4 separate regions of the Homo sapiens genome follow, and all the other regions are linked to region 1. The links come from fine-mapping of genetic effects on gene expression. A gene starts in region 1. Each other region holds a variant in brackets. All regions are shown on one strand. Distances are from middle to middle.

The links.
Region 2: its variant is fine-mapped to the expression of ACSM3 in whole blood (INTERVAL, PIP above 0.99). The same link has a PIP of 0.9 or more in nasal epithelium.
Region 3: its variant is fine-mapped to the expression of ACSM3 in T cells (TOPMed, PIP 0.93).
Region 4: its variant is fine-mapped to the expression of ACSM3 in whole blood (TOPMed, PIP above 0.99).

What each region holds. Positions count from the first base shown.
Region 1 is chr16:20,758,893-20,767,251 of GRCh38, reverse strand. ACSM3 (acyl-CoA synthetase medium chain family member 3) reads right to left here and starts at 3,238. Exons shown (of 14, transcript NM_005622.4): 1 at 3,127-3,238. RefSeq lists an enhancer at 2,972-3,101.
Region 2 is chr16:20,792,545-20,800,903 of GRCh38, reverse strand. ACSM3 (acyl-CoA synthetase medium chain family member 3) reads right to left here. Exons shown (of 14, transcript NM_005622.4): 13 at 4,415-4,534; 14 at 3,323-4,018. The coding sequence ends at 3,932. ERI2 (ERI1 exoribonuclease family member 2) reads left to right here. Exons shown (of 9, transcript NM_001142725.2): 6 at 502-602; 7 at 866-947; 8 at 1,553-1,641; 9 at 1,837-4,564. The coding sequence ends at 3,180. Among named protein-coding and RNA genes, the nearest start is that of ERI2, 9.7 kb to the left of the region's middle. The variant T/C (reference allele first, on the strand shown) is at 4,783.
Region 3 is chr16:20,945,799-20,953,798 of GRCh38, reverse strand. DNAH3 (dynein axonemal heavy chain 3) reads left to right here. Exons shown (of 62, transcript NM_001347886.2): 56 at 1,250-1,366; 57 at 5,162-5,316. Among named protein-coding and RNA genes, the nearest start is that of LYRM1, 49 kb to the right of the region's middle. The variant C/T (reference allele first, on the strand shown) is at 3,139.
Region 4 is chr16:20,671,247-20,679,605 of GRCh38, reverse strand. It overlaps ACSM1 (acyl-CoA synthetase medium chain family member 1), which reads left to right. Exons shown (of 14, transcript NM_001318890.3): 5 at 7,935-8,075. It also overlaps a transcript of ACSM3 not described here. Among named protein-coding and RNA genes, the nearest start is that of ACSM1, 22 kb to the left of the region's middle. The variant A/G (reference allele first, on the strand shown) is at 4,295.

The DNA.
Region 1 (8,359 bases):
GCCACCGCGCCCGGCCCCGGTCCCTGTTTTTTGCTGGCAAGTCACAACCTATGCTTTTGGCTGCTCTCCTCTTAACAGAATTAGCATCAGGTTTCCTTCAACTGAAAGAAGTTAAGTAATCAACACTACTTGTCTCTCTCTGTTTTTAATTTTTTTTCGCATAATATCTTCAAATGGCTCAAAAAAACTGTAAAAGGTACAGAGGGAAAAAAAAATATCTGCCTCCCACCTCTAGTCTCAAAGCTGCCCACTTTGCTCTCACTCCCAGGAAACCACTATTATTATTTCTACTTATCTTTTCAGGGTTTCTTTATGTGCATTCAAGCAAATTATGAGTATAGATTCTTATTTCTCCACCAATTTTACACAACAGGTAGCACAGAATACACACTATTCTGCCCACTAAAAACATTTTTAACAATGTACCTTTTAAGGGCTTTCCATACCAGTGCGCAGAGATCTTCATTCTATTTTTTTAAATGAAGTATTTATTCATTTATTCTTTCCTTTTTTTCCCTGCCTAAAGACAGGATGGATCTCACTCTGTCACCCAGACTGGAGTGTAGTGGCACGACCACCCCTCACTGCAGCTTGAACTTCTGGGATGAAGCGATCCTCCTGCCTCAGCCTCCAGAGTACCTGGAATTACAGGTGTGTGCCACCACACCCAGCTAAGTGTTTTAAAAAATTTTTTAGAGATGGGGGTCTCACTATGTTGCCCAGGCTGGTCTCAAACTCCTGACCTCAAGCAATCCTCCTGTGCTAAGCACTTTGCAGTTATTTATTATTATTTCCATTTTACAGACAAGGAAATATACACAAACACGCACACGGCCTCCCAAAGCACTAGGATTACAGGTGGGAGCCACCACACTCAGCCCTGTTCTGATTTTTTTCTTTTAACAGTTGTATGACATTCTAGTGAAGAACTGCACTGTCATTTCTTAAACCGGTCCCCTATCAATGGTCACTTGAGTTTTTGTATAATTTTGCAATTTAGATAAAATGTTGAAACTATGTCTTCCAAAAGGAACGTCCTGATTCTTTCATTACTTGGATGTAAAAATGAATAGTATTTTTAAGTGGTTGTGAAGTATTAGAAACAATTTCTGATTCTATTAAATAAAAGGCAGGAATTTGGACAAATATCTTAAGGTCTTGAGCTTCATTCTTGGTAGGTTGGCATGATTCATTTATTTATTCAACAATTATTAATCACTTGCCATGAATTATTTCAGACATAGAGGATACAGGAGGGAATGCAAGAGACAAGGTCCTCCTTGCTCTCATAGAAAGACACATATAGTAAACAAGGGAATAAATAAATGTGATGTTACGCAAGAAAACAAAGAGAGTAATGGGAGAAAAGGGACCTTTTAGGAGGTCTCTCTAGGGACGTAACATTTTTGCTGAGATCTGGCAAGTGGTTGTACTGTTAAGCATTTTGCAGTTATTTATTAGTATTTTCATTTTACAGACAAGGAAGTATACACAAACAGACACACATATTTAAATTGGACAACGCATTTATTCATTACCCGTGTATTTATTGAACACTTGGTATATGCCAGACCTGTACTAAATGCTGAAAATATAGCTGTGAACAAGACACGGCTGGTCTTGCTCCCATGAAGCTTATAGACTATTAAGGAAGACATTAAATAATTATGTAAATATTAATATGATTGGAGATAAATATATCATACTTAGCTTGCTGATTCTGAATAGAATCAGAGTTTAGTATGATTTGTTCCCTAGCTCCCATACAATACTCTACACCACATTCAGAATCCTTCAAACGTATGTTGAAAAGAAAATTGATCAGTCATTTGGAGCTTAAAATGAACCTAACCATTCTGTTCTACCAAAAAGCAAATATCGACATCCTCTTCATCAAAACCATAAGATTACCTTCTCCTCAACAAAGTTCTTTTCCTCCCTTTTCATCGATCTTAGCATTTTACAACTTCTATTTCCCAGGTTTATAAAATTATTTGTAGGTAAAATTGCTGAGATAACTTTCCCAGGGTGACTCCAGATTTTTATACTGAGCCACAGAAACATTGGTAAGGAAAACTCTTCTAAGAAAGACAGTACCACCCCTGGTCAGATAGGCTTCTGAAAGTATTTAAGGTCTCATCTGAAATGCAAGCTCTTTGTCCCTACAGCCAAGGGGGCTTTAGCCTCCCCACAGCTCCCTAAACATCCCTCCCTCTAAGTATCCAAGTAATAACAGTAGTTTAACATATACAGCCTCAACGCAAGGTAAATTCACTGCTGTTGTCTCCAAACCCAACCAGACCCTGCCTGAAGCCCCTCCTATACAGAACTTTTGCAGCTGCCCTTGACCACCTAAAGGAGAAAACTGGCTGCTCTTAGGTTTGCATCTGTGTTTCCCAAAGTTTCCTGGAAGTAATTTACATACTTTCTGGATGATGCAGAAGATGGATTCCCATCTGTCACTGAGCAAGGTGGGGAGCTAAGCAGACAGTACAATGAAAATCTCAGCCACTACCTGGTCTTTTTTTTGAGATGGAGTCTTGTTCTGTCACCCAGGCTGGAGTGCAGTGATGCAATCTCAGCTTACTGCAAACTCCACCTCCCAGGTTCAAGTGACTCTACTGCCTCAGGCTCCCAAGTAGCTGGGGTTACAGGCACCTGCCACCACACCTGGCTAATTTTTTATTTTCAGTAGAGATAGGGTTTCACCATGTTGGCCAAGCTGGTCTCGAACTCCTGGCCTCAAGTGATCTGCATCTGCCCACCATAGCCTCCTAAAGTGGTGGGATTACAGGCTTGAGCCACCGCATCTGGTTCAATTAAAATTAAAAAAAAAATTTATCAACTTAATACATGTACATAGTTTTTCAAAAAATCAAATAGCACCAAAAGGCTCAACATGAAAACTCAGCTGCTACATTTATAGCCTTTTGTGTGTGCATACTCCTCATCACTTAATAGATAGTATCACACAACTGAGAAATTCTGAGAGAAACTTTGGCTGCCCAAGACTTTAATGACAGCATTTTTGATTGTTGGTTTTGTTCATCTGTTTGTTATCTTTGCTCAAAAAACAGATGTGCCAGTTCAGGAAATCTTACACAGGAGGGGAGATGAGGTACTCACTAGTTAACAGATTCCAACACAGATGGAGATTATGGCAGACTTGTTTCTTAGAAGAGCAGCCCTGAACCTTGAGTTCTCACATCTGCTTTTTCCTCGTGGCAGTCTAAAGAAGAGGGAGGAGCAGTCTGACAATCCGGAGGAGCAAGACTGGCCCAAAACACTTTCCTTGATTGGTGGAGACATTCTGGAGGAGGAGCCAAGCTCTGGGCTAAAGTTTACAGGACTCCCAGCGGTTCCTCTTACAGGTAATGATTTACAGAAACAGCAAGCTTTTGAGGGGCGGAGAAAGCAAATTATTAACAAGAAGGAAAGTGTCCAAGGAGTTGCCGAAGTGGTTAGTTCTGTAAAGGGGCAGAGAGAGCACTTCTCAGAAGGAAGAACAGATGGAGGAAGCCATAGAGGAGTTTTGAAATTGAAAGGAAAGAAGTTGAGGGGCGGTTATGGGTTGGCCTAAATCTCATCAAGCCCATTGGTGCGTTTATCTGTCGAAGTGGCAGGACTAAACATAAACGCTATCAGGTTACTCCCCTGCTCAAATCTTTCAGTGCTTCTTTTTCCACTCCAGGTAAAATCCGAGTCCTTACATGAACTGCAAGGAGTTGTATGATCTGGCACAGGGTCCTCTGATCCACAGCCCATTCTCCTTCCTCTGCCTCACTCTGCACAGCCACCGGCCTCCTTGCTTTTTCTCAAACACACTTGCCTGTTTCAGCCTCAGGCTTTCTGAATTCACAGTTTCCACTGACTGGAACTCTTTCCTCAGATATCCCCCTGGCCAAATTCCTCATTTTCTGAGGTGTCTTATTAAATAACTCTTCCCTTACCTCATTTTCTAAAGTAGCACTCTTCATTTTTTCTCTTTTACCATTTTTTAACTTTTTACATCTCTTACTATCACCCTTGAGGGTAAGAACTCTTTTTGTTTGATGGTGTATCTATTGCCTGGAATAGCTACTGGCAAATTTTAGGCATTCAATAAATAGTTGATGGATATGTGAATAAATAAAGGACTCTTTCAATTACATGTGAGAGACCCAACTTTACTTAAAGAGGAATTTGTTGGTCACTTTTGAGTTCTAGGAGTCTTTTGTTGTTGATTCCTTGGGATTTTCTGTGTAATCACATTACCTGTAAATAAGTAAACAGATCTTACTTCTTTCTTTCAGATCTATATGCGTTTTATTTCCTTTTCTTGCCTTATTGCGCAGGCTAGAGTGTCTAGCTCTACGTTGAATAAGAGTGATGAGAGCAGACATCCTTGCCTTGCTTTTGATCTTAGAGGGAAAACATTCAGTCTTTCATGGTTAGGTACAATATTAGTAGTAGGTTTTGTGTAGATGCCCTTTATCAAGTTGAGGAAATTCTCCTCTATTTCTATTTTTTTCTGAGTGTTTTTATCATGAATAGGTGTTGAATTTTGGCAAGTGTTTTTTCTGCATCAGTTACTATAAGCATGTGGTGTTTTTCTTCTTTAGCCTGTTAATAAGATAGATTACACTGATCTTCTAATATTGAACCAGCCTTGCCTCCCTGGAATAAACCTTGCTTGGTCCTGTTGTATATTTCTTTTTCTGTATTGCTGAATTCTATAGTTATGTCTCTTGACAAATTTGAGAACTTTTCAGCTATTATTTCTTGGAGTAAATTTTTAGCCCCCATGTTAGATCTTTTATGATAGTTTCACAGGTCCCTGAGGCTCTGTTCTTTTTTTTCTTTTTTTTCCCATTCTAGTTTCTTTCTTTTGTTCAGGTTGAGTAAATTCTGGCTTCCAGTTCTTTGATTTTTTTCTTCTATTATTTCTATTCTGATGTTAAGCTCATTATTAGAGACAGGGAAAAAACAGTGTTTTTTTTTCTACTCTCACATACCATTCAGCATAATGTTAGCAGTGGTGAATCCATACGGATCTACAATAACTTGATTCTTGCCTCTTCAAAGGAAAGAATTCATCCAAGAGGCATAAGGCAGAGTGAGAGACTGAGGCAAGTTTTTGAGCAGGAGTGAGAGTTTATTAGAAAGTTTTAGAGCAGGAACCAAAGGAAGAGGGGCAAGCAGGCAACTTGAGAGATCCAGGTGCCCTGTTTGACTTTTGACTTTGCGTTTTATACATTGGCATGCTTCCGAGGTTTTGTATCTCCTTTGATTTTTTCCTTGGCATGGGCTGTCTGCACGTGCAGTGGCCTGTCAGCACTTGGGAGGGGCCACATGTGCAATGTCTTTACTGAAGTTGTGCACATTCTCATTTGAGGCGTTTTTCCCTTACCAGTCAAGTGTTCCTAGAGGAAGGTTGTATACCAGTTAAAATCTGCCATTTTGCCTCTTAGTACGCATGCTTGAGCACACTTGCCCAGTTCCTGAGATCTTATTGGAAAGCTGCTGATCACCAGCTTTAGGTGTTTTCTATCTCTTAGGAGACTGCCTTTCCCTGGCACCTACTGCAACCAATTATTTTAGAGTGACAGTTTAATAACCGCCTGACCATCACCTGATTGTCGCCTGACATTCCTGCCTTTCCTGCCTTGCCCATATCTGCCTGACTACCTACTCTAACAATAACACTTCTGACACTAGACGTGTGGGGGGTTTTCACTATACCAAGCAATTCTCCAGTGGACACCAGCTTGGGTGTCATGTCCTACTTAGTTCAACACTGTCTACCTGGAAATAGTGTCAGATCCTACAGGTTAAGGTCTCAATCTGTAAACTAAAAAGTATCTGAGACAGGTCTCAATTAATTTAGAGGTTTATTTTGCCATGGTTAAGGATCATGACCCATGACACAGCTTTAGGAGGTCCTGAGAACATGTGCCCAAGGTGATTGGGTTACAGTTTGATTTGATACATTTTAGGGACAAAGAAGTTATAGGCAAAGACATAAATCAATACATGCTGAGGAGGCTGAGGCAGAAAAATTGCTCAAACCTGGGAGGTGGAGGTTGCAGTGAGCTGAGATCATGCCACTGCACTCCAGCCTGGGCACTCCAGCCTGGGCGACAGAGTGAGACTCCGTCTCAAAAAAAAAAAAATGTGTATACATTGGTTCAGCCTGGAAAGTTGGGACATCTCAAAGGAGGAAGAGGCTGGGCTTTCAGGTAATAGGTGGATTTAAAGATCTCCTGATTGGCAATTGGTTGAAAGGGCTAAACTCTGGCTGAAGAATTGAAATCAGCTTGAGTTAAGGTAAAGGGTGGGGGGTTGCGGAAGCCAAGGTTCTTTTCAAGTAGATGAAGCCTCCAGGTAGCAGGCCTCAAAGAGAACACTTGTGAATGTCTCTTATTAGACGTTAAAAGGTATCACACTCTCTGGAAATACATAGTAAAGATGAAGAAGGAATTAATGAAATCAACTATAACCTAATAGTAGTGGTAACAGAAATTTTTAAATCCTCTTAAAGTTGCTGCAACTTTAACTTGAGTTATACTTAAGTTAAAAGAGAATATTAACAGCCTGTCTTCTCTCTGTGGTCAGTGGACCTTATCTATATTCCCCAACTCCACATTCATCAAAGTTTATTACAGGCTCAGTGAGTTCCTGCTTACCTCCCTAGCATGGCTTCAGGGTCACAAGACCGATAAGTTTAGGTTGGAAGACATGTTTTTCTCAAGATGTAAGAAATGTTGTAATGCTTGATTAACTGCCTTTGTTTCTCTCTTCCGTAACTTACTTCCTGCCTCACATGGTTCCTGCCTTAAGATGTTTAAAAGTAGGAAAGCCTTTAGTTTGGGGCTCAGACTTTCTGGATGTATGTCTGGCTGAGCCTGTGATCACCTTAATAAACTCTCCTGAACCTTTTTCAGTCTCTCCAGTCTTTGATTGTCCCGCAACAAAGGAAGGAGATTTTCCTACAGAATGCAGCTTTTCCCCACAAGAGACAGCTTTGCAGGGCCATTTCAAAATGTGTCAAAGAAATATATTTTGGGGTAAAAGACTTTGATTTTCTTCAGGGCCTGCTATCTGTTATATGATGCTGTACTAGAGTCATTTTAGAATTTGGATCTTATTGCTACAAAGAGTCTGTTTTGTCAGTTTTAAGATCACTGTTTCAATGTTAATGTTGGTCAGTTGTGCTTGAACTCCAAAAGGGAAGAGTATAATGAGGCATGTCTGTCCCCGCCACCCCCTGTAGCTGCCCCTACTGGCTTTCCATCATGGCCTAATTTTTCAGATTTCCTTGGGTCCTCTTGGTCAAAAGGAGGGTCAATTCAGTCAGTTTGGGGGCTTAGAATTTTATTTTTGATTTACAAGTCCCACAAGACTGCCCCCCACTTCAAGTGTCATAAGATTCAAGGTTGTAATCTGTACTTCTAACCCCTCTCCTTGAGTTCAATTAATTTGCTAGAACTATTCATAGAACAAAGGGCAACACTTACATCAACCCATTTATTATAAAGGATATTACAAAGGATACAGATGAACAGCCAGATTAAAGAGATGCATAGGGCGAGGTGTGGGAGAAGGGGTACAGAGCTTCCATGTCCTCACCAGATGTTCTACCCTCCTAGAACTTCCTCATGCTCATCTACCCAGAAGCTCCCTGAACCCAGCCCTTTTTTTTTTTTTTTTTTTGAGATGGAGTCTTGCTGTGTCACCCAGGCTGGAGTGCAGTGGCGTGATCTCGGCTCACTGCAAGCTCCACCTCCCAGGTTTACACCATTCTCCTGCCTCAGCCTCCTGAGTAGCTGGGACTACAGGTGCCCACCACCACACTTGGCTAATTTTTTTGTATTTTTAGTAGAGACGGGGTTTCACCGTGTGTTAGCCAAGATGGTCTCGATCTCCTGACCTCATGATCCGCCCACCTCAGCCTCCCAAAGTGCTGGGATTACAGGCGTGAGCCACCACACCCAGCCCCTTTTGGGTTTCTTAGAGGCTTCATTACACAGGCCTGACTGATTAAATCATTGGTCATTGGTAATTAACTCAACCTTCAGCCCTTCTTTCCTCCCAAGAGGTAGGGGGATGGGAAGTGGCGTGGTGGTGGGGTGGGAGAGAAAGTTCTAACCCTCTAATCACAAGGTTGGTTCTCCTGGCAACCAGCCCTCATCCTGAACCCCTAACCCCTAGTCATCTCACTAGCATACAAAAAAGCTCTCTTCAGCAAATGTAAAAGAACAGAAATTATAACAAACTGTCTCTCAGACCACAGTGCAATCAAACTAGAACTCAGGATTAAGAAACTCACTCAAAACCGCTCAACTACATGGAAACTGAACAACCTGCTCCTGAATGACTA
Region 2 (8,359 bases), 34 kb before region 1:
AGTCTTCATCAGCTCAACATCCTTTGCTTTTATGCTTTGACACTTAAAAGAAAAAAAAAATGAGCCATTTAAAGTAGGTTTTTTGTATGACTGTGTTAGAGCATTGCTGTTAATAGTCATTAATAGCAATACTGTGTCATTGATAAGATAGCATTGATAGTCATATTTGGTTTCCAGTTACTATAAAATGTTTGGTTTCTCAATAACATTAATATTTTCCTAGAATATAGAAAATATAGTCCTTGTAATTTAACATGTTACTCTTCTTTCTGAAATAAGGTTTTACTGGGTGTTTAAGAAATCATTTTGAAATTTAGTCATCAACCTAACTTGTTAATAGTAAGTTATATAAAGTGAATAATTTTTAGATATTAGCAGAGCAATGAAATCATACTGTTCTATTTTATATGATCTTCTAGCATTCTATTTGTAAATGGTGGCAGCATAAGTAAAAAATGCTGGCATCATTGACTTTGTTCTATTTTAATGTACCTAATGCAGACTGGGACTTGGGGGTTTGCCTGGAGTATGAGTGTAAAAGAAAGCAGCTGTTAAAACCTGTGTTTTTAAATTCTTGGATTGATCTCAGAGCAACTTACAAGGTAATGGTAAAAAATGGGGGCATGTTTACTTTTTTCTATGGAAAAATGATTAACTTTTATCCTACACATGGGCATGGGTTTCTGCAAAGAAGATACTTTCTTTTGTACTGGTCACATAAATGCATTTCTTAAAGTATTTAAAAACAACACACAAAAAATAAGCACATTCTAAATCTAATAGAACTAAAAATTATGAAAAGTGTTTAATACATAGTCTTTAAAATAGTAATCTTCTTTTAAATATATCTTTTTTTATTGGTTAGCTTTTCTATAGGAGAAAACCAAAAGGACTAAGTGGTGCCTTGCAGGAAGTAGGAATAGAATTCTCAGGACGAGAACATTCTGGTTAGTATACATTAAAAATTATGTAAGCCATTTGACTTTTAAAAAATACTTCATATGAATTTCATTTTTTGGTAATGTCATTAGTAAGGGATATCTTCAGCCTAAAAAAAAAAAACTCCTAATCTAAACAATTCACATTGTTTCTAAGACTTTCAAATTACCACTTTCATAAACTATTGTAAGATACACTGCCATCTAGTGGCTTTCTAGTTGCTAAGAAGAATGAAAAGAATGAGCCAAATCAAATGGAGATTAAACAAGTGCTCAAATAATAGAATGGACTAGTGAAAAAACTGAACAAGACTATTAGATTATTCACAAATCCTGGTTCCTGCAGAACGCTGGCCACATTTTGGGGAACTGTCTAATACATTTTCATATCCTCCTCTATAAATGTGGACGAGCTTGTCTTTCACTGGTAATGCTGCCATAGCCTTCCACTTCCAAGACCAGTTTATCATGATTAAAATTAGTAGATGGTCATAAAACTAAAACTGTGTTCCAATTTCTACACAAGTGGTGTTTTTCTTTTTAAGTTATTTCTTTAGTACTAAGGAAATAGTACTAGTACCACTAAATTCAGTGTTTGATATCTGTATCCTCAGGGTTGGACGATTCTCGGAATACTGCCCTTCTTGCTTGGAAAATGATCAGAGATGGTTGTGTAATGAAAATTACAAGGTCGTTGAACAAGGTTAGTAGTGTCTTGCCTTTTTATTCTGTCATCTCAAACTTCATAAACAGTCATACGTTCTTTGAAACGTAGATTTAATGTGTGCAGTCATTTATAAATCAATGACATTTCTCTTTTTTGTCATAAAACTGTATACTGAAGAAATTAACGAATGCACAGTTTCTAAAGCTGTTGCATTTGTCTGTGGAATCATAGGTTCCCACTAAGAAGAATTTCAGCATTCTGGCCAGAAATTTGAATACAATTCAAGTTGAAGAAATGTCTGCCTGTAACATTAGCATCCAGGGTCCCAGCATATATAATAAGGAGCCTAAAAATATAATAAATCCTCATGAAAAAGTTCAAATGAAGTCAATTTGTGCAAATTCTCCTATAAAGGCACAACAGGATCAATTACAAGTAAAAAACAATATAAAAGCAAGTCTTCACAATGTCAAAAGTTCCTTACCTCTTTTTAATACTAAGTCCTCTACTTCTGTGGGGCAGTTGCAGTCTCCTACCTTGAATTCACCTATCTATATGCAAAAGCAAGGAAAAAATGAACATCTTGCATTTAATACCAAATCTAAGGCTTCAACAGTTGGTTCAGAATTGGTACTTGTTTCTACCACCGTTCCAACTGTTCATCATGTTTCTGATTTGGAAATGAGCTCTACTCTGGACTGTTTACCTGTGTTGGCTGATTGGGAGGATGTGGTTTTACTGCCAGCATCTCAGCCTGAGGAAAACGTAGACTGTACAGTTCCCATTAGTGACTCAGACTTAGAGATTTCATTTAATTCTGGAGAAAGATTAATGGTTTTGAAAGAATTGGAAATGTCAAGTCATGAAAACTTTGGAGACATAGAGGAAACTCCTCAAAAATCTGAGACTTCTAAGTCTATTGTGTACAAGAGTCCTCACACTACTATTTATAATGTAAAAGAAGCCAAAGATCCAGGTTCAGATATTTCTGCCTTTAAGTTACCTGAACACAAATCAAGTACCTTCAACAGAGTTAATGCCAATATGTCTCATCCTTTAGTTTTGGGGAAACATCCTCTTCTTTCAGGTGGTACCAAAAGGAATCCATGCAGTCCCCAAGCTTTCCCACCAGCAAAAAAACAACCCTTCACTATTCATGAAGAAAAGCCTACATCATCTGATTGCTCCCCAGTAAGAAGTTCTTCCTGGAGGCGTCTCCCATCTATATTAACTTCTACAGTTAACCTACAAGAGCCATGGAAGAGTGGGAAAATGACACCTCCATTATGCAAGTGTGGTCGGAGATCTAAGAGACTTGTTGTTTCTAATAATGGACCGAACCATGGAAAAGTCTTCTATTGTTGCCCTATCGGGAAATACCAAGAAAACAGAAAATGTTGTGGTTATTTCAAATGGGAACAAACACTTCAAAAGGAAAGAGCCAACAGCATGGTTCCATCTCATTCCACAGGGGGACTCACTTTTAGTTCTCCAGAAACAAGCCATATTTGTGACAGAAATTTAAGTATTTCCACCAAAAATTCTTTGAGACTCAGGCCTTCAATGAGGAATTGATAACCTTTCATGTATGAATCCTAATTGTTCCTTGAATTTCCAAACATGAGTATTCTGATAACATCTTACACTATTTTATTTTTATTTTATATATTAATGTTTACTGCATTTACCATACTTTCTTCAGGAACCACAAGTGTAATCTTTTGTAAACAGTATTTATTAGATTACATATAATAAGCAACAATAGTATATGATCCTTCTTTTATAGTTAGACCTTGAAACAAGTCTAAACTATTTTTAAATTATTTGCAAAAAATGTGACTAATAAAAATCCCTAGTCTATTTTCAGGTAGATTCTTGTACTTTGAGATTATCATAATCTTCTAACTGATATTTTATATTTTTCTAAAAACTTTTATAAGTTCTTTAGTTTTATTTCAGGCTTGAACATTGGTTCTGATTTGTATATCAACATATCAGAAGAATTAGTCAACTAAAGTTTGAAAACCTATGTAGCAGAGATCTGGTTCAGAAACTGCTTCTATACTATACATTTAAAAATTAATCAGCAATTGATGGTATTATTTTTATATTAAGAAATGATAGGAACATTGACACTAATGTGGAGGAATTTGCCAAATATTTTATTTCAAAATTTAGCCTCTGATATCATAACCACAAGATATTTTAAATCAACAGTTTCTAAGCATACTACCACAGTTTTTATGACCTCTCCATCATCTTGTGGTTTCTAGAGATTGACAGATACTATGTTTGTTTTATAGATATGGTAATTAATGAAACAACTTTAAATTGTCTTCCATTCTTTCTTCCTCAGTTCATTTCTTTTTGTCTTCCCACTGATAGTCTTTGGCAGCTCTTGAATAAATTCTACCTGTTGGCATCAAGGGGAAGAAAATTAGCCTGGAAATTTTTATCTTTACATAAAGCCAATTATATAGCAGTTTGATTATGAATTCTAGGTGGAAGAATTAGAATAGTCTTTGGAATGGGTTTTGGGTAACAGCCAAAATAGGGAAAAGGGTATTGTTAGGAAAGTTGTCTTGATATTAAGTATTTACTGTGAGTCCAGTAAGCCAAAGGACCAAACAAAATAGGTTCAGGGTTTCATTTTAATCTCAAAGATTCTGATTCTTACCCATATGTCATCAGTTCAGTTTGGGACATGTGGTGCAGCATGTGTGAAGAAAATATTCATTAAAATGTAAAAATAAACACTTGAAATTGTCCACAACACTGAGCAAATATTCGTTATAATTAGGATGCCTACCTTTCTGGGATATTTGTAAGGTGCTGTAGTTTTTTTAACATGCTCCTGAATCTCCTTTATTAGTTGTTCTTGATCATGTGACTTGTAATCAGGATTTAGAACGACAAAAGCCTTTACTACCTAAAATAAATATTTGAAACACCAGGAAAATGAGTTATGCATTTGTATGTTTTAGTATGTCTTGTTTGCTTGCTCTGAGAATCTACATGCCTGGTGGGGTGGGCCAGTGTGTTTTAATAAAGTTTGATCCCAGCTCTGTGCTCTTAAGCCAGCCACTTCCTGGTCTGTACCTAATACAGGAGAGCTTCTGGGACCCCTGTAACAACCCAGCCTCATCCAGCCTAGCCCTCAGCATGGGGGATTACTTA[T/C]AAACAGTAGTCACGCTGAGTTTGCCATGTCTTTGTTGAAGGGAACAGTTCACAGAGAACATGCAGTCTTTATACAAGGCTGTGAAGATTCCAGCAGCTATTTTTTTGTTGCTCTGATCCATTTCCATGGCCCTGAGGAACAAGAGTGGAAATCATGGTGGCCTTTAACTGGCAGAAGCCAAGAAAGATGTTATTACTTTATGCTTACAAATCCTCTTCTCCAAATTTTATCCTTCCTAGAAATGTTTTTGAAAACTCTGCCTAGTTTTTGGACCTGTAATGGAGAAGACAGAAAGATAGGCCATCCCTCATAGCCCCCTTTAAAAGTAAATTTGGAGTCCTGTCATTTTCTCTCCTAGGGCACTACCAGGACTGCCATTTACTGCCTTCCCTAGAGGCATGAGTCTAGGTGCATCAACTAGTATGTACCTCCAACGCCAGATTACCAGCCCGGAGCTGGCTATGGAATGATGCTTCCCTGTAGGCACAGTTCCAGGAGAGTCCCCTGAAGCTTTTTTATGATTAAGTATCCTGCACTTAGGTGCCTGAAATCTTATTAAATTCAAGGATTCGTTTGTCCAGCTTAAAGATAAGCTGGCAACATTTCCTATCCACTTTGATCTGGGAGTAAAGATTTCATTGAAAAGGAATTATTTGAAACAACAAATTACCAGGACAGCCATTTGGTGAGAAACAAAGACTTGAAGTTATAATTTTTTCACATATTGAAAACTGTTCACCAGTGGGCAGTTTTACATTGTATGAACAATTACCCATTTTTGTCTTTACCCAAAACCCTTGTGGCCAGGCACAGTGGGTCACGCCTGTACTGCCAACATTTGGGAGGCCGAGGTGGGAGGATTGCTTGAGCCCAGGAGTTCGAGAGCAGACTGGGCAACATAGTGAGACTTTGTCTCTAAGAAAAAAAACAACAACAACACTTGAACATTTTTAATTTACATGTGCCATGCGGCAGTTGTGAACCCTTGTGTGTGTGTGTGTCTATGGATATAATTTTGTTCCATTCACTTTTTGACATTTTATAAAATGCATTTGTAGTTATGCTAGCTCTGCTGCATTAACATTTTTACAAATTAAAAAATTATGCTTGTTGTAAGTGAGTCATTCAAAGGTAAATTATTTTAAAAACTGCAATACTGGTTCACATATTGACGATTTCTACAACTTGGATAGTCTCTTTTATCTTTTTAAACTACTGCAGAAAATGTTAAATTAACAAGGAACAACCTAACATGGGTAAGAGTATGAACTCTGAAGTCAGAACAGCTGGGTTCAAGTCACAGTTTGTTGTGTAATGTTGGACAAGTTAGGTAATCTCTTTGTGCCTCAGTTTCCTTCTCTGTAAAAGAGATTATGATGATTAAATGAATTAGCATAGATGTATAATGCCTGGCACATAGTAAGTCATCAAAAACATTAGCTCTTAGTTGTAGTCTTAGAATTACAAGAAGTTTGGGTCTTATTTTTTAACCCAGAATCCATAAGTGGGCTTCAAATCTCTATGAAATTCTATGCAAAATCTTGTATTTTTCTGAGAAAAGTCTATGGCTGTGCCATTCAATATGATAGCTGCTAGCCACGTGTGTCTATTTCAATTTAAATCAATTAAAATTAAATAAGATTAAATACTCTCAGTCACACTAGCCACATTTCAAGTGATTGATAGCCATGCATGGCTATCGCATTGGATGGTGCAAATATAGAACATTTCCATCACTGCATAAGTCTTAACAGTGGCCTATGGTTTTCTTCACATTCTCAAAGAGATATGTGATCCCAAAAATTTAAGAACCTAGTGATCTAGACACATATTCCACAAGTCTTTCACATTCCAATGTTAAAATGGTATTTCAAATCCAAATATTCTTTTTAATCAATTCTGGAACTTGCTACCCAATTACCCTGCCTGGCAGGACCCAGCCTAGAGAAGGACCTAACCCAGGTAGAATAGGCCTGGCAGCAGAAAGGGAGGCATGGAGCACATGGCCGTTTTGTTCATGGATACCTCGTTTGAGATACCCACTCACATCTTCTACTAGGAAATGCTGCAGCCTACCACTGTTGGAAAACTGGCCACACTTTCCCCCTCACTCTGACTAATCCAAGCCCTATGCCAAGCCCCCGGAGCTGTGAGGGGACCACAACCCACTTATAGACCTTTCCTATATTGTACGCTAGGATATCAGGTGGCTGCCAAGCTAACCCTGTTCCGAAAGGCTCAGCTACCATCCTGTCCCTAGTAAGCACCTGTCTAGGTGGGTAAAACTGATGATGACTAATGGTAGGGGAGAAGTACAGGAAGAGCTAAGACTCGTGAAACCTTGCCGATGATGTTCAGAGCAAAGAGACAAGCCAATAATCACTGACTGTTTTCCCTGCCCTCAGCTGCCTGGAATATACCCTTTCACAGTAAATAGCGATTGTCATCCTAGCAACTTGACAAACTACCAATTCCCAGCCACTGGGCTATATCTGGAACAACTTTGGGCCATCCAGGAGGACTTAACAGGGTATCTTCTGGCATCAAAGATCAGTTAGGGGAATCAGTCCTGGGGGGAGATCCACCCTCCACTGTAACATGCACATCTCCTATTTTTACCTTAAACTTTTTTATTTTTATTTTTATTTTTTTGAGGCGGAGTCTTGTTCTGTTAGCCAGGCTGGAGCACAGTGGCACGATCTTGGCTCACTGTAACCTCCCCGTCCCGGGTCCAAGTGATTCTTCTGCCTCAGATTCCCAAGTAGCAGGGATTACAGGCGTGTGCCACCATGCCTGGCTAATTTTTGTATTTTTAGTGGAGACAGGGTTTCACCATGTTGACCAGGCTTGTCTCAAACTCCTGACCTCAGGTGATCCACCCACCTCAGCCTCCCAAAGTGCTAGGATTACAGGTGTGAGCCACTGTGCCTGGCCTGCCTTAAACTTCAGGACCTATTTCATCCCCTGAGATTGGATACCTTCTAACTCTGCCCTGTGCCCTGTGCTTGAAGCCCTATACCTAGGATTTGAGATAAGGAGCTTGAATACATGGTACAGAAAGTTCTGGATTTGTATTGACATCAGTGTCATCTTCAAAACTTGGATTCAGTGTTAGAAGGGATATGGCTTGAAGAAATACTTGTGAGAACTTGTAACTCAGCTAGAGAAACCCTAGGGGCATGTTGTAGACACACAGGCAAAACGCAGGAGGCTGCCTGGCATGGTACTTTTAAGCCAAAATACTGTGTGGTCAGCCCCAATAGGAATGGGCTTTCAGGACACCTGTGTTATTCAGAGTTTATTTCCTGAAATCTCTACTTATTTACCTACCAAGACTGCTTATGGTTACCTCAGTTCCAGCCTCTGGTTCCCACTTCTGACATCTGATGCCAGCCCATTCTCCTTCACTACACCAGGGACCTCGTTGGTTTCCAGACCTTCTGGGTAACAATTTGATCCCATCCAGCTGACTTCTGTCACCCCATCCTGACGTGAGCCTGGGTTACTGGCATTCACACCATCTTTGCCCTAGTCCACCACGGAAGGAATTCAAATTCTTTCTAGTACGTATTTTCA
Region 3 (8,000 bases), 190 kb before region 1:
CACTCCAAACTGGATGACAAAGTAAGACATTGTCTCAAAAAAAAAATTAAAATAAATAAAATAGCCTGACATAGTAGCACAAGCCTGTAGTCCCAGCTACTTGGGAGGCTGAGGTGGGAGGATCACTTGAGCCTGGGAGTTCGAGGCTGCAGTGAAGGGAGATCATACCACTCTAGACTGGGCAAAAGAACGAGATCCAGTCTCTCAAAAAAAAAAAGCCATGCAAATGTTTGGCTTGCAACTAACTGCCAGTCATGCTTCGTTTGCTGGCACACGAATTTTATTATTTTGTTATAATTTGAAAGCGAGTGTTTGGGAGGAAATTAAACTTCTCTATTGAACCTGGGCGCGATGGTTCACACCTGTAATCCCAGCACTTTGGGAGGCCGAGGCAGGCGGATCACTTGCGATCAGGAGTTCAAGACCAGCCTGGCCAACATGGCGAATCCCCGTCTCTACTAAAACTACGTAAACTAGCTGGGCGTGGTGGCACGTGCCTGTAATCCCAGCCACTCAGGAGGCTGAGACAGGAGAATCTCTTGAACCCAGGAGGTGGAGGTTGCAGTCAGCCGAGATCACGACACTGCATTCCAGCTTGTGGGACAGAGCGAGACTCTGTCTCCAAAAAAAAAAAACAACAAACAAAAAAACAAAACAAACAAAAGCAAAACAAACAAAAAACTTCCCTATTGAGCACAGGTTTCCCCATACTCTTTCTTGTATCCTGCACCATGCCTGGTTTACACATGTATGTCACTTGTTCAGCCCCCAATGGGCATTTATCATTACACCCTTGGAAATACGAGTGGTCATTTCTTTAAGGCTGGCCATTCAGTTTTTCCCGTGAGCTCGAGGAGGGGAATTCTCAGAACCAACGTGGCTCTGTTGCCCAGTCGTAGCTCCTGCTGTCTAGCCATGCCGCGGTGTTATTTTTGGAGCTCCGTGCATTACCGCCATATTCCTGCCAGGCTGAATAATTCTCATTCCACAAATCCCAGGACATTAACATCTTCCTTAACAAATGGGGAGGTATATAAGGAAATTGATTTTAGAATGGATGTTTTCTCAGGCAGAATGGCTCCCATGTTGGTGGTAAACGTCCAGGCTAATAGTTGGCCTCGGTGCTTGATATTCATGAGCCTGAAAGAGGCTTTTGATCCATAATGATGCTTAACTCCCTCGGCTTGGTCTTTGAGTGGAAATTAAGAGCTCTCAGCACTGAAGCCTCTCTCTGCTCTCCCACACGCAGGGTGGAATATTCCCTATGAATTCAACGAATCTGACCTGAGGATTAGTATGTGGCAGATCCAGATGTTTCTCAATGACTACAAGGAGGTGCCCTTTGATGCTCTGACCTACCTGACAGGTATTTACGGGAGGAGTTTTTCCACTGTAAACCTCCAGTATCATGTTCCACCCTCCTGCTGTTCTCCTCCCATTTCCATTCACTTATGTACTCCCTCCCTCCCTCACCATAAACATCGAGCTCTTACTAATGCTGGTCATCATGCTAGATATTGTAAGGAAACAAACAAACAAAAAAAATTAAGATAGAATCTTTACCCTTGAGTGACTCACAGTCTCCAAAAGAAGAAAAATATTTTAAAAAATGATACAGGCCAGCGGGGCACAGTGGCTCATGCCTGTAATCTCAGCACTTTGGAAGGCCACGGCAGGTGGATCACCTGAGGTCAAGAGTTTGAGACCAGCCCGACCAACATATTGAAACCCCATCTCTACTAAAAATTAAAAAATTGGCCAGGCGTGGTGGCTCACGCCTGTAAGCCCAGCACTTTGGGAGGCTGAGGCAGGCGGATCACGAGGTCAGGAGATCGAGACCATCCTGGGTAACACGGTGAAAACCTGTCTCTACTAAAAATATAAAAAATTAGCCGGGCATGGTGGCCAGTGCCTGTAGTCCCAGCTACTCCTTGGGAGGCTGAGACAGGAGAATTGCATGAAGTGGGGAGGCAGAGGTTGCAGTGAACTGAAATTGCGCCACTGCATTCTAGCCTGGGTGACAGAGACTCTATCTCAAAAAAAAAAAAAAAAAAAAAAAATACGGGCCAGGCGCAGTGGATCATGCCTGTAATCCCAGCACTTTGGGAGACCGAGGCGATGGATCACTTGAGGCCAGAAGTTTAAGACCGGCTGGGGCAAAATCCCATCTCTACAAAAAATACAAAAATTAGCCAGGCGTGGTGACACATGCCTGTAGTCCTAGCTACTCAGGGGACTAAGGTGGGAGGATTGCTTGAGCCCCGGATGTGGAGGTGCGGTGAGCTCTGATCGTGCCACCCCACTCCAGCCTGGGTGACAGAGCGAGATCCTGTCTCAGAAGAAAAAAAAAAAAAGGTAACATAGTAATAAGTTCAACAAGAGAAACATTTATAAGTAGAAGGGCAGCATAATGATTAAATCTTGGGGTAGGAGGAGGAGATGATCGTGGCAAACTTCTTAAAGGCATAAGAGATGGGTTTTGGGGGTGAGTAGGAGTTTTATGAGTGGAAAAGAATGGACTGGGTGGGGCATAGAGGAAGGAGAACATTCCCAGCAAAGTGATCCTGAGGTAGAAATGGCACTAGCTGTTTTGTATTAAAGCAATCAATCAGCAACCTTTTATTAGTCCACGATATGTACAAGTACATAATATGGAAGAATGTAAATGTGTAAAACTTGATCATAGGCTCTGTGCGGTGGGTCATGTCTGTAATCCCAGCACTTTTGGAGGCCAAGGTGGGAAGATTGCTTGAGCCCAGGAGTCTGAGACCAGTCTGGGCCACATCTCTACAAAGAAATAAAATAAAAATGAGCTGGATATGGTGTTGTGCACCTGTAGCCCCAGGTAATCAGGAGGCTGAGGCAGGAGGATCGCATGAGCACAGGATGTCAAGGCTGTAGTGAGCTATGATCACACCACTGCACTCCAGCCTGGGTGACAGAGCAAGACCCCATCTCTTAAAAAACATACACACATACAACCAAAAAAACGTGACCACTAACTTCAAGGAACGTGCCGTATAGTCCCAGAGACAGGAATAAGAATAGACATGTGCTAAATGAATGGAATATCATGGCTGAAGGTCAAAATGCAGCTTAATTAAAACACCGGGGCATCAAGATCACACCCAATTTCCT[C/T]TTCAGCTCCATATGTTAAGGAGTTTGTTAGAATCCCTTCCCCAGGCACGTGGCAGACACTGTATACCTGTGATTAATGCATTGAGTCTTCATGCTAATTTTATGAGCTCCATGTTAATAACCCCATTTTACAGCTGGGAAGACAGAGGCTTAAAGGAGTGGTTCTAACTGTGGGTGATTTCAGCCCCCAGTGGCTATTTGGCAATGTCTGGAGATGGTTTTGGATGTCATAGTGCGTGCTACTGGCAGTTATAGTAGTGGAGGCTAGGGATGCTACTGAACAGTCTACGATGTACAAGGTGGTCCCCACAACACAGAACTATCCAGTCCAACATGTTAAGAGTGCCAAGGTTGAAAGACTGTTCTTTACAGTGATTAAGTTCAGTGCCAGAAGGTCACATTGACCTTAACTCAGTAGAGTGTTCCCTAAAACAAAGCCCCAAATGACACACACAGTACGCATACAGTGGGTCTCAGTTTGGTGAAAGAACATCTCCAAAGAAGTGCGCCTGGAGCTGGACACAGTGGCTTGCACCCATAGTCCCAGCTACTCAGGAGGCTGATGCCGAAGGATTACTTGGACCCAGGGATTCAAGACCAGCCTGGGCAAAACAGCAAGATCCCGTCTCTAAAACTAGTAATAATAATAAATAGAAGTGAACCATATTCCCACAGTTCCAGGTCATGCAGAAGCACATCCTAGGGTTCCTCTTCAGACCATAGCATGAGTGCATGATTGCCCTGGGATATGGTCTGCTTAGAGAACTGCCTGCAAGCCATAAACCAACTGCCTGCCGGTCATAAACCAGCCAGCTTGAGAGTAGTTACCTTCCAACTGTTCCAGTCAGGATAGGCTAGTTAGGCTGAGATAACAAACAATCCTCAAACCTCAAGGGTATAAAAGACATCATAGATCCATTTCTTGCCCACTCTACATTTCCAGCATGAATTAGCAAGAGTCTTTGCTCGTTGTAATTCTCTATCAGGGGCACAGTTAGCAAAGGCTCCAACCACTGTTACTGCCACCATCTCAACATATACACTAGTCCCTCTTTATCCACCAGGGATATGTTCCAAGACCCCCAGTGGATGCCTGAAACTGCGGATTTTACCGAACCCCATATATACTATTTTTTATCCTATACATACATACCTATGATAAAGTTTAATTTATAAATTAGGCACAGCGAGAGATTAACAACAACAGTAATAAAATAGAACAATTACAATATGCTATAATAAAAGTTATATGAATGTGGTCTCTCCCTCGCTCTTTAAATGTCTTTTTTTTTGTTTCTGTTTTTATTTATATTTATTTATTTATTTATTTTTTGAGACGAAGTTTCGCTCTTGTTGCCCAGGCTGGAGTGCAGGTCTTTTTTTTTTTTTTTTTTTTTGAGACAGTCTCCCTCTGTCACCCAGAGGAAGGTTTACAGTACTCTTGTAGCTCTGCGGTCCAGACAGCTCAAGTATTAACCGCCCAGTGGTGGGTCAGCGTGACAGACTTTGGCACTTGCACTCATGGCACCCAAGCTCTTGTCCAGTGTCCAGGAGGAATGGGGTCGCACAAACGAATGGAAGATGGTAAATGTGGGGGATTTTATTGCCGAAGAAAGTGGCTCTCAGCGGGAAAGGGAGCTGAAAAGGCTGTTCCCCTGAAGTCAAGCCTCTTCTCTCTGATGTCCAGCTGCTTCTCTCTCTCTGCTGGCTGAGCCTGGGGTTTTGATGGGCATGGGTTGTGGGGGTGGGGCAGGTCATGGGTGGTTTTGGAAAAGGCAACATTCAAGTGGGAAAACAGGGATGTAAGTTCTCACTTTGGGCCATGGTTTCAGGCTTTTCAGCTTGAGGGTGGGGCCCTTGCAGGGGACCCGCCATCTTCTGCCCGGAATTTTCCTGCTTGCTGTCCCTATCACTATGTCCCAGCAGAGATCTTTGGCCGGAAGAATGCCGTGTTTTACATCAACCACCAAGCTCGTGATGACCTTCCCTGGGCTCAACCTCTCCTTCTGTTGGTTGTCCCCAGGGGAATGTAATTACGGAGGCAGAGTGACTGATGACAAAGACCGGCGTCTCCTGCTGTCACTTCTGTCCATGTTCTACTGTAAGGAAATTGAGGAGGACTATTACTCCCTCGCTCCTGGAGACACTTACTACATCCCTCCTCATGGCTCCTACCAGGTAAGGGGTGGGCAGGGAGGCCTACCTCTTTCCCCCACAGGGCTCCGTCATCTCTATATGGCTACAGGGCTGCAGTGTAGCCAGGGATCCCAGGGGTGACCTTGGGCTTCCTGAATTGAATCCATAAGCTATTCCCAATATTCCCAAAAGCCTGCAAGAGAGACATGGCTACTGTTTAAGGAGGGGGTCGGTATTTGGTAGACAAGGTGTTTCAAAATATAGGATCCATCTGGGTGGAGGAAGGAGAGAGAACGATGATTAAGATGGAGCCTTGGAAGTGAGCAAGATGGAAATTGCTACTTGAAGACGAAGATTCAGAAGGTGGCAAAAAGGGAGGAACAGAAAAACTGGGCAGGGAATGACAAAAGGAAGATGAAAACAATCTGAGGGATAGAAAAGAGCTTACAGGTTGGATGCTGTGGCTCACGCCTGTAATCTCAGCACTTTGGGAGGCTGAGGCGGGTGGATCACTTAAGCTCAGGAGTTTGAGACCAGCCTGACCAACATGGTGAAACCCCATCTCTTCTAAAAATATAAAAATTAACCAGGTGTGGTGGCGCCTGCCTGTAATCCCAACTACTTGGGAGGCTGAGGCAGGGGAATTGCTTGAACTGGGAGGTGGAGGTTGTGGTGAGCTGAGACCATGCCACTGCACTCCAGCCTGAGTGACAGTGAAACTGTCTCAAAAAAACAAACAAACAAACAAAAAAAACCACTTACTTTTATTGATGACCTGTGGAACAGAAAAACTCTGAAATTGTATTTTTCTACTACTGTCTCACCACAACCACCACCACCATCAATACAGAAGAAGACTTCTGTGACCAAATGTGTGGAGGTTACCCCTTCCCCACACATTAAGCAGTGGACACCAACTGGGTGTCCTCTAATTCAATTCCAATACCATCTACCTGGTGATAGTGTCAGATCCCACGGGTTGAGGGCTCAGTCCCCAATTCTTTCCCCCAACCCAGACACCAGTCACAAGTCCCAGCCTCAAGAACTGACCAACCAGCTTCACGTTGGGGTTCTCACCACTCCCCCTTTAATTGAAATTAATTCAATTAATTTGCTGGAGCAGCTCACAGAACTCAGAGAAATACTTAGGTTTATTGGTTTATTAAAGGAATATTACAAAAGATATAGATGAAGAGATGCATAGGGTGAAGTATGGCGGAAGGAGTGAGAACTTCCATGCCCTCCCTGGGTGAAATACCCTCCAGGAACCTCCACGTGGTCAGCTATCCAGAAGCTCCCCGCACCCAGTCTTCTTGGGTTTTTATGAAAGCTGTATGACATTCCCCAGAGTATAGGGCAGCACCCTCTCTCTCTAGGTGGAGTCTTAAGACTCACAATCAGGTCAGGTGCAGTGGCTCATGCCTGTAATCCCAGCACTTTGGGAGGCTGAGGCTGGTGGATGGCTTGGGGTCAGGAGTTTGAGACCAGCCTGGCCAATGTGGTGAAATTCTGTCTCTACTAAAAATACAAAAATTAGCCGGGTGTGATGGCATGCACTTGTAGTCCCAACTACTCAGGAGGCGGAGGTGGGAAGATCGCTTGAGCCCAGGAGGCATAGGTTGCAGTGAACCAAGGTCCCACCACTGCACTCCAGCCTGGGCCACAGAGTGACCCTGTCTCAAAAAAAAAAAAAAAAAAAAAAAAAGGACTCACAATCAGAAAGGCAGGGGAAGATTTGAGTCTTGCTTGGGGGCAGGTAAAAGGAGGGAAAGAGAAGGTCAGAGAGATTCTGTTTCCTGCGGCCTGCCCCTAAGGCCTAACACACCCAACATTATAACAGGTGACTGTAACAAGGGCTAGGGGAGTTAGAAGCCAGGAACCATGGATGAAAACCAGTAGATATATATGTATATTACACCACAACCTGTCACATGCCAAGGCCTGATTCCTTCTGTGGATGAAAAGAGTCTCTTTCTTACCCTGTAAAATATTTGAAGAGATTTATACTGAGCCAAATATGAGTGACCATGGCCCGTGACACAGCCCTCAGGAGATCCTGAGAGCATGTGCCCCAGGTGGTCAGGGCTTGATTTTATACATTTTAGGGAGACGCGAGGCATCAGTCAAATACATTTAGGATATCCATTGGTTCAGTCCAGAAAGACGGGAAAACTCGAAGTGGAGGCCAGCAGGTTATAGGTAGATTTAAACGTTTTCTGATTGGCAATTGGTTGAAAGAGTTATCAATAGAAAGGAATGCCTGGGTTATGATAAGAGGTTGTGCAGACCCAAGTTTTATCATGCAGATGAAACCTCCAGGCAGCAGGCTTCAGAGAGAATAGATTGTAAATGTTTCTTATCAGACTTAAGGTCTGTGTTGATGGTAATGCTGGAGGGGCATAATGAGGCATGTCTGACCCCCACTTCCCGTCATGGCCTGAACCAGGCTTTCAGGTTAAATTTTAGAGTGCCCCGGACAAGGAGGAAGTCCATTCAGATGGTTGGAGGGTCTTAAGATTTTACTTTTGGTTTATACTTCATAACTACACTTGTTTTTCTATTTACAGATAAGGAAACTGGGGTTTCAGATGACAAGTTCAAGGGTACATAGTTTTATTATCGGAAGGGGGTCCAGATCCAGACCCAAAGGGATGGTTCTTGGATCTTGCACAAGAAAGAATTCGGGGCGAGTCTATAGAGTACAACAAAAGCAAGTTAATTAAGAA
Region 4 (8,359 bases), 88 kb after region 1:
AAATGGTAACAACATTAGTGTATGTAATAGAAACATGCTTACACTACACATAGGAATGGCAAACCTTCCTCTGGGCATGGACATTTGCAGCATTTGCAGTAATAATGTAACAACAGAACAATTATAACTAGGCTTATAAATTTTATCTACATTTACTTATCTAGAGATGGTCCTCTTAGCTTCGGCTGTGTGTAGACTAGTCAGCTTCCAGGATGTGACTAGAGCAGAGCTTGCAAGATCTTCAAGCTTCAGCCATGTGTAGACTGACCAGCCTCCAGTGTGGTCAGAGCAGGGCAGTTGTCCTTCTTACTGGTGGTTGGGATTCGCCGTAGGTCTATTCGGGTGGGGCAATCAGGGTCTTGTTGGTTAATCCACTGGTCATAGTCGGGAGTCACTGCTGCTGCTAGTTTCAGCCAGCTATGGTGAATCCAAGGTGTGACACCTGCAACTTTAACAGCAGTAGAAGTAGACATGATTACAATATGAGGCCTATCCTGTATGGGTCCTAGAGTGGTTGGATTCCATTTTTTAACTTAAAGAAAATCCTTAGGTTTGAAAGGGTGTACTGGGTCTGTTAGACTTATAGGCATTTTTCTATACCTAGCCATGCATTTTTGCATGGCCATACTTAAAGTCTGCATTTGCCTTCTTAAAGTTACTTCTTCTAGTCTACAGATGATGGGGGGTGGCCGGCTGAACAAAATCTCAGAGGGGGAATACCCAGTTTGCTTGGTGGAGGTGCACCTGACTTGGAGGAGGACCATGGGCAAGACCTGATCCTACCTTTGATGAGTTTCTTGACACAATTTCTTCAGCAGTTGTTTTAGTGTCTGGTTCATGCTCTTCGCTTTACCTGAGCTCTGCAGTCTGTAGGCTATATGTTATTTCCATTTTATTTTTAATAGTCAAGTTAAGTCCTGAACTATTTCAGCCACAAATGTTGGTCCATTGTGAGATCTTAGAGTTAGAGGCAGTCCAAATCTGGGAATAATGTCTTTTAACAACACTTTGGTCACCTCTAGTTCCTTCTCTGTCCCGGTGAGGAAGGCCTTGACTTATCCTGAAAAGGTGAACACCAACATGTACTGATAGCCCCCATCACAGGGTAATTCGGTGAAGTTCATAAGCAGTTTTTCACATGGCATGGCTTCTGTTTCCTGAACTCCTGGGGGTGGAGTAAGCCCTTGTCATGGATTGTTCTGAACACAAGTTAAATATTGTTCATTTACAAATGGCTTGAGTAATAGCAGTGAGCCATGGCACATAGAAATGATGCCTTAATAATGTCTTTAGTGCTGTTTTTTTGTGTGTTTTTTTTTCAGGTCAGTTCCTTGGTGGAACTGTTTTACAAATCTGGGGGCCACCGTTTCAGGGATGGCTAGCCTCCCACTGGAAAATTTTTACTATCCTTCTTCAATGTAGTTGATATTTTTCTGGGCAAAACAAGCCCTTTCATTTGGAGTGTAGCTTGGGATCTACAGAAGGGGAATCTCTGGGAGGAGAGGCATAGCTAAGGCTTCTTCTTTAGAAGGTGGGGTTGTCCTGCTTTGCCTCTTTGTCTCATTTATTTATTTATTTATTTATTTATTTATTTTAGCCTTTAGTATTCTTCCTTTATGGTGCCCCTTGCAGTGCATCTCTGCCACATCTTTTAAGGCCTATACAGCATTTAAGAGCTGTAGAATTTCTTCCTTGTACTTTATTTCTTTACTTTCAGCAGTTAAAAGCCTTTTTTTTCTTTGTAAATAGCCTCATGAACATGGAAAGTGTCAGAAGCATATTTGGAATCTGTGTAAATATTTGTCTTTTGGTCTTTTGCTAGCCAGAGAGCTCTTGTCAGAGCTATTAGCTCTGCTTTCTAAGCAGAAGTTTCTGTAGGCAAAGACTGCACCTCTACTACTGAGTCCAAAGTCACCACTGCATACCCAGCTCAGCAGATTCCCTTTCGTATGAAACTGCTTCCATCAGTAAAATATTCTATGTCTGGCTCCCCAAGGGGCCTATCTGTCAAATCTCTCTGGCTTGAGAACACTTCATCTATCACATTTACACAGCAATGAAGGGGGTCTCCTGGTACTGACTTGATGAGGAGCAAGGTAGCCGGGTTTAGGGTATTCACAGTCTCTAAAGTTAGTTTGTTAGCTTATTGAGCCAGTAGGGCAGTGGCAGCTATTGCTTTAAAACAAGGAGGCCAGTGAAGTGCCACAGAATCTAATTGCCTGGATAAGTATGTCACTGGGTGATGCCATGACCTTATGGCTTGAGTTAGAACCTTCATGGCCTCCCTTTCACTTATGGGCATACAAGAAGATAAGCTTAGTTAGTTAGATCTGGCAGTCCTAAAGCTGGGGCCTGAGTCAAGGCTTTTTTTTTTTTTTTAATTTCTTTAAAAGTCTTCTCCTGGTTAGCCTCCTAGAGGAGGGGCTCTTTCTTTCCTTCTCTTTGTGGCTTAGCCATAAGCTAGAAATTTGGGATCTAAATGCAGCAGAACCTTGCTGCCCTTAGGAACTCTCTTATTTGACACCAGGTGGTTGGAGTAGGAAGTGCACAAACAGATTGCTTTTGTTTACTACTAAGCCATCTTTCCTCTTGGCTTATATAAAGGCTTAAATACTGGAGACTTTTAGAGCAGATTTGAGCTTTTTTCTGACACTTTATGTCCTGCCTTTCACAGCAGGTGCAGGGAGTCTTGGGTTTCTCCTGGGTGCAGTAGCCCTTGGCTGGAGGGTTTTTTTTTATACCATGGCCTTGACCATTCTCCTTATTTTATTTATTTATTTTTTGGGGCATTTATTCTTCTAGTGTCATTTCCTTTTGCACCGTGCACATTAATCTCTCTCTAGCCTTGGCCAGCTTTCAAACTCCTGTCCAAACCAGCCTTTTCCATGACTGTGTTCACGCCCACGACCATGCCTCCTTGCAAAGCCAGCTTCTCTTCCCATAAGGGCTGCTGCTAGTAAATTAGCCTTTGTTAAGCCTCTGATCAGCTTTCTTCTCTGCCTCCTGAACTCAGTTAATGTACACCTTGTAACCACTTTAATAAGCTGAGTTGCATTCACACCTACGGAGCTTCTAACTTCTGCAATTTGTGCCTGATATCTCCTTGGGCCTGCCTTACAAATGCTGTGTCCACCATGCACTGATTTTCAGCAGCCTTAGGGTTAAACAGAGTGTACAACCAAAATGCCTCAAAAAGTCTTTCTTAAAACTGGCTGGTGCTTTTATCTGCACCCTGGAGCACCTCTGAGATTTTTTATATTGGTTGCCTTTTTCTTTTACCAGCCTTTAGCCTTTGCAGAAGGGCTTCTTGGCACTTTTGTAGGTGCTGAAGCTGGACTGCATCATCTGGGTCCTAGTGGGTGTCCTCTTGTCCTCTTAAGAGGCATAAGCATAACTTGGGCGTGACCAGACCTGAGACACCCTCCCTGACTTTTCCAGCCTTTCACTTTAACTTCCTGGAGCTCTAATTTCTCCTTCTCAGGTGAGACTGGGAGCCTGTATCTCTTTGAACTTAATTCCTTAGGGGCAGTTAGCCTTGGTAAAGGGAGGTAGATTGGAATGTAGGGAGGAGGGGTCTCTATTCCCTCCTGTGGTTCTTGCAAAACTGGTTTTCTCTTTCCTGAGACTTTTCTTTTGTCTCCGTAGTTGCCAGGGCAGCTGATTTTTACTTTTACTTTTGGCTTTCACTTTTCACTTTTGGTGCTACAAGCCTCTGTGACTTTACCTTTAACTCCGTAGCCGCCAGCGCAGCTGGTTTCTCTGGGTGTGAGCTGTGAACGTTCTACAATAAACTGCTAGGCAGGGCTGCATTCATTTAGCCATGAATCAATATAAAGACTAGGTCTGAATGCCCTGGCTGTCTTCCAGGGCTAGTCACTACCTTAAAACACACAGCCAATTTACCTATAGTGCCATTGGTCAGCCATCCATCACTAAAAGAGGGCTATTCTAATTCACAGTATGTCCTTAACTTTTGAACATCCAGTTTCATCCCATAATCAGCTCTAAATCCTTTTTAAAAATTCTTTATCATGCACTCCAAAAGGAGTTGGTTTCCATGCTTTTCCTCCCATTTCCTCCCTTGAGGTGCACTTTCACTCTAAGGTCCACCAGACTGGGTCCTATTACAGGAGTTTCAGACGCTGCTTAGCCAGGAACGTGCCTTTCCCTGCCACAGACTGCTGCAGCTGTGAAGCTCAACCTATCAGCCATATGCAACATCCTAGGACTGATTTCCCCCACACTCGCCTGGGAGCACACAGCCTGCGCTAAGGGATCTGTGCCTCCCCACATT[A/G]CTCCCCGCATTGGCCTCTCCTGAGACCGTCTCTTTCACACACTTTCACACACCTCCCTTGCCTCAGGACTCCTCATCGGACAAAACAACCCTCTCTCGTGTCCCGGGTGAGCCTAGTTAGATTCCCACATTCACACACATACACACACCACTTCTACCCCAGGACTCTTCATCAGAGGAAACGAACCTCTCTGGTGTCCTGGGTAGGTCCGCACACACCCACACACTCCCAGTTGGGGTGGCAAGCCACTCTTACCATTCTGCCAGCAAACTCTTCCTTGCTGCACTTGCCGCTGTATCGGCCCATTTTCTCCACCAGTGAACCACTTTCACTTTGTTAGGGGGACACGAGGTTCATCCAAATTGGCGGGCCACTCCTGCCACCCCCAGCCACTCTGGGTTGGATGAGTGGTTGGTCCCTGGGAGGTGATCAAGCTCACCTTCATCCCTATGGGATGGGCTTTCCTACCTTGGGCCCTTTCTCCTTACCGCGGTTCCTGAAGTGCTGGTGTCATCCTGCAGCCCCATCTCAGGTTCAGTTGCACTGCTGGGCAGGATGCGGGGAGAGCCAGTCTCCATCCGGGTGAAACTCCCCCATGGCATGCCTTGGATGCCAGGTCTTCCACAGCCCCAGGGCCCTAGTCCCATGGGCAAAGGAGACAGTAAATCTGTTATCTCCAATCCCCATATGGGCCACCAGAAATGTTTGGGGATGATTTAGGAATCAGAGAGACCGATGGGGTTGAGGAGGATATATGTATTATTTAGGTGCACCAGCCAACCCAGTCAGATTAATATCCAAAGGACTGAGCCCAGAACAAAGAGTCAGGTTACCTTTTAAGCATTTTGGGGGTGGAGAGGGGGGAGGGAGAGATCTGTTCAGGGGGAAGCATATTACAGAAGTGAGAAACAAAGACAGTTATTCAATTGAGACATGCATTACATCATTTCTTACTTTTCAAGGAAAAACATGTTTTGCAACTTGGGTTTATCTGTCTAGTGACCTTGCAGCTGCACAGCTAGAGAAACAGGGTCTTCACAATGCCTGGGAAAGGGAGAGATAAGGCTCACTAGCCACAGACAGAGAAACAGGCAGTTAATTTTTAAAGGACTCCACCTCTTTCTCTTCCTCTGGGGCAACTGGGTTTTCTTACATACAACTGAGTTTTTGCTTACACATTCTTTAATTTCTTTTAATTCCTGTTCCACAGGTAGAAGAATGCCATTCACTCCCAAGTGGTGAGAGACAAGCAGCCAGTGGTAGGAAGGTCATCAAGTCAGTTGTCAGAAACCTCACTTATGTCACTGTTTTGCTATGTGACCCTGACCTAGTTCCTTGCCCTCTCTTGATCTCAGTTGCTTTATCTGTAAAATTTCACATTTTTCAGCAAGTCAACCTTCCATGTTCCTCTCATTAAAATATACTCACCCCTGGGACTGTGCAAAGGAGATTTGTAAAGTCAGGGGGTTATTGTGTTACATATTCCTTGTAGGTGGGAAACCTAAAGTCTTATTTTTCTATTAAAAATATATGAAGTAGTTGAATGAAAGGTTAAAATGAATTTTTAAGGTAAAACTTAAGACCCCAAGAAAAATGGAATTGCCAACTATGGCTTATAGGTAGCTTTGGGAGCAAACTCTTTCCATCTCCCAGGGACTGGGTGCCTTCAGAGACACCTGGGGGCAAAGTGAAGGAAGGCTGGAGATAAGAAAGGCCCCTTCTGCCTCCAAAACTCTGATTCTGTAAGCCTTCAGTCATGTCTCACATTATACACACAAACCATGCTGGGTTTGTTTTCTTGGAGTAATACTTGAGTTTTTAAAGCTCTTTATTTCAACCCCAAAAGGCAAACATTACAGCAAAGTCACATCTTATGCTGTAGTCTAATGTCAGAGAATTTAATTAAAACAGAGTACTCTTGAAAAATCCCTCGAATTTCCCAAAGTCAGTATGATACCATTTCACAGCAAGACCAGCAGACCTAGTGTTTCCTCTCGTGTTGGGATTATTTGCAGTTGCTTTGAACACCATAGAAGCCTTGCATTTACAATTGTAGTAGGCCCAAGGCCCTCTCAGTCCAGGGGAAGCTCCTGAGAAACAAGAGAGACTGAGGGAACCACAGATCTTATCTGCCATCTCAAGCTCATGCTAGGGCAGAGGTACATTGATCGCAGTAATTTTATATATAATATATATATAATATGCAAATTTATATATAAGTATAATTTATATATAAGTATATATATCATATAATTATATGTATATATGACATGTAAGTGTATATAATATATGACATATAAGTATATATTTTATATATTTATGTATAATTTTATATATAAATTTTATATATGAGATATAATATATAAATGTTTTTATATATTTATATGTAATATGTTTTATATATATTTATATTTATTATATATTATATATATTTATATTTATATATTATATATTACATATATTATATATTTATATTTTTATATATTATATAATATATATTATATATTATACATATTTTGTACATAATTTATATATAAGCATAATTTATATATAAGCATAAATATTATATATAACTTACATATACTTACATATACATGTATATGTATATATATACTTATATATAAATTATATACAATATATACTATATGATATATATTATATATACTTATATATAAATTATATATCCTATAATTATATTTATATATGACATGTAAGTATATATTATATATGACATAAAAGTATATATTTTATATATTTATATATAATTTTATATATAAATTTAATATATGATATATAATATATAAATATGTTTTTTATATATATATATATATATATATATTTTTTTTTTTTTTTTTTTTTTTTGAGATGGAGTTTTGCTCTGTCACCCAGGCTGGAGTGTAGTGGTTTGATCTCGGCTCACTGCAAGCTCAGCCTCCCAGGTTCACAACTAATCTCCTGGCTCAGCCTCCCGAGTAGCTGGGAGTATAAGCGCCCACCAGCATGCCCAACTAAATATATTTTTTTTACTCTCCCCCTTTCTCTCTTTCTCTTCCCCACCCCTCATCACCAAGGTCACAGAGTTTAATTTTAAAAAACAAGCTTAGCAGTCTGGTTAAGGGCACAGACTAGGATGCCGACTGAGTTTGAATCCTGGCTCTGCCATTTGCTAGCTGTATATTACCAAGCAAATTACCTAACCTCTCTGAGTCTCAGTTTCCTTACCTGCAAAATGGGCATGATTAGAGTAGTACTCATCTCCTAGGGTTGCTCTGAGTACTGAATGGTTCATATTTGTAACTCATTGAGAGCATTGCCTGGAACATAGCAAGTGCTATTCAAATGTTCATTAGATTACTTAATGAATTCATTAAATTACTTAAGATTCATTACTTAAATTACTTAAGATTAAATGACTTAAGATTCATTGTATTTTACTAATTTTTCAAATAAAAAAATGCTGGTCCACATGTCCGAATCACCCATCAAGTCAGTGTGATGCCTAACTCCGGGAGAGCCAGTTTTCCTCTAGTGTTGCAAACTCCCAGTTTCCTGTCCGTGCCTTATGTTTCTTTTGCATTCCCAGAAGATGAAGAAACAGCAATCATGACTTTTTTCCTTTTGTCTTGAACCCCTTTGCAGATCAGCATCCCCAGAACACACCTGTGTTAAGTCAAAGACCTTGGACCCAATGGTCATCTTCTTCACCAGTGGGACCACAGGCTTCCCCAAGATGGCAAAACACTCCCATGGGTTGGCCTTACAACCCTCCTTCCCAGGAAGGTAGGAAAGAGGGCACCGACATAGAGGCTGGACCCAGATGTGGGCAAAGTTTGTGTGTGTGTGTGTGTGTGTGTGTGTGTGTGTGTGTGTCTTGGGAAAGGAACTGGAAGTAGAAGTGACTACATACTCCTTTTCCCTTCCACTCTCTTTTGTTCAGACCTCTCAGGGTCTGAGAGGTGAAGGCTGGGAATCCTAAATGTTTGCTGACAGAGGCCTGAGAGTGACAAAGGAGGCACATTTAGGTTTTACCAGAGCATCTTCATAGGAGATGTGGAGGAAATGTG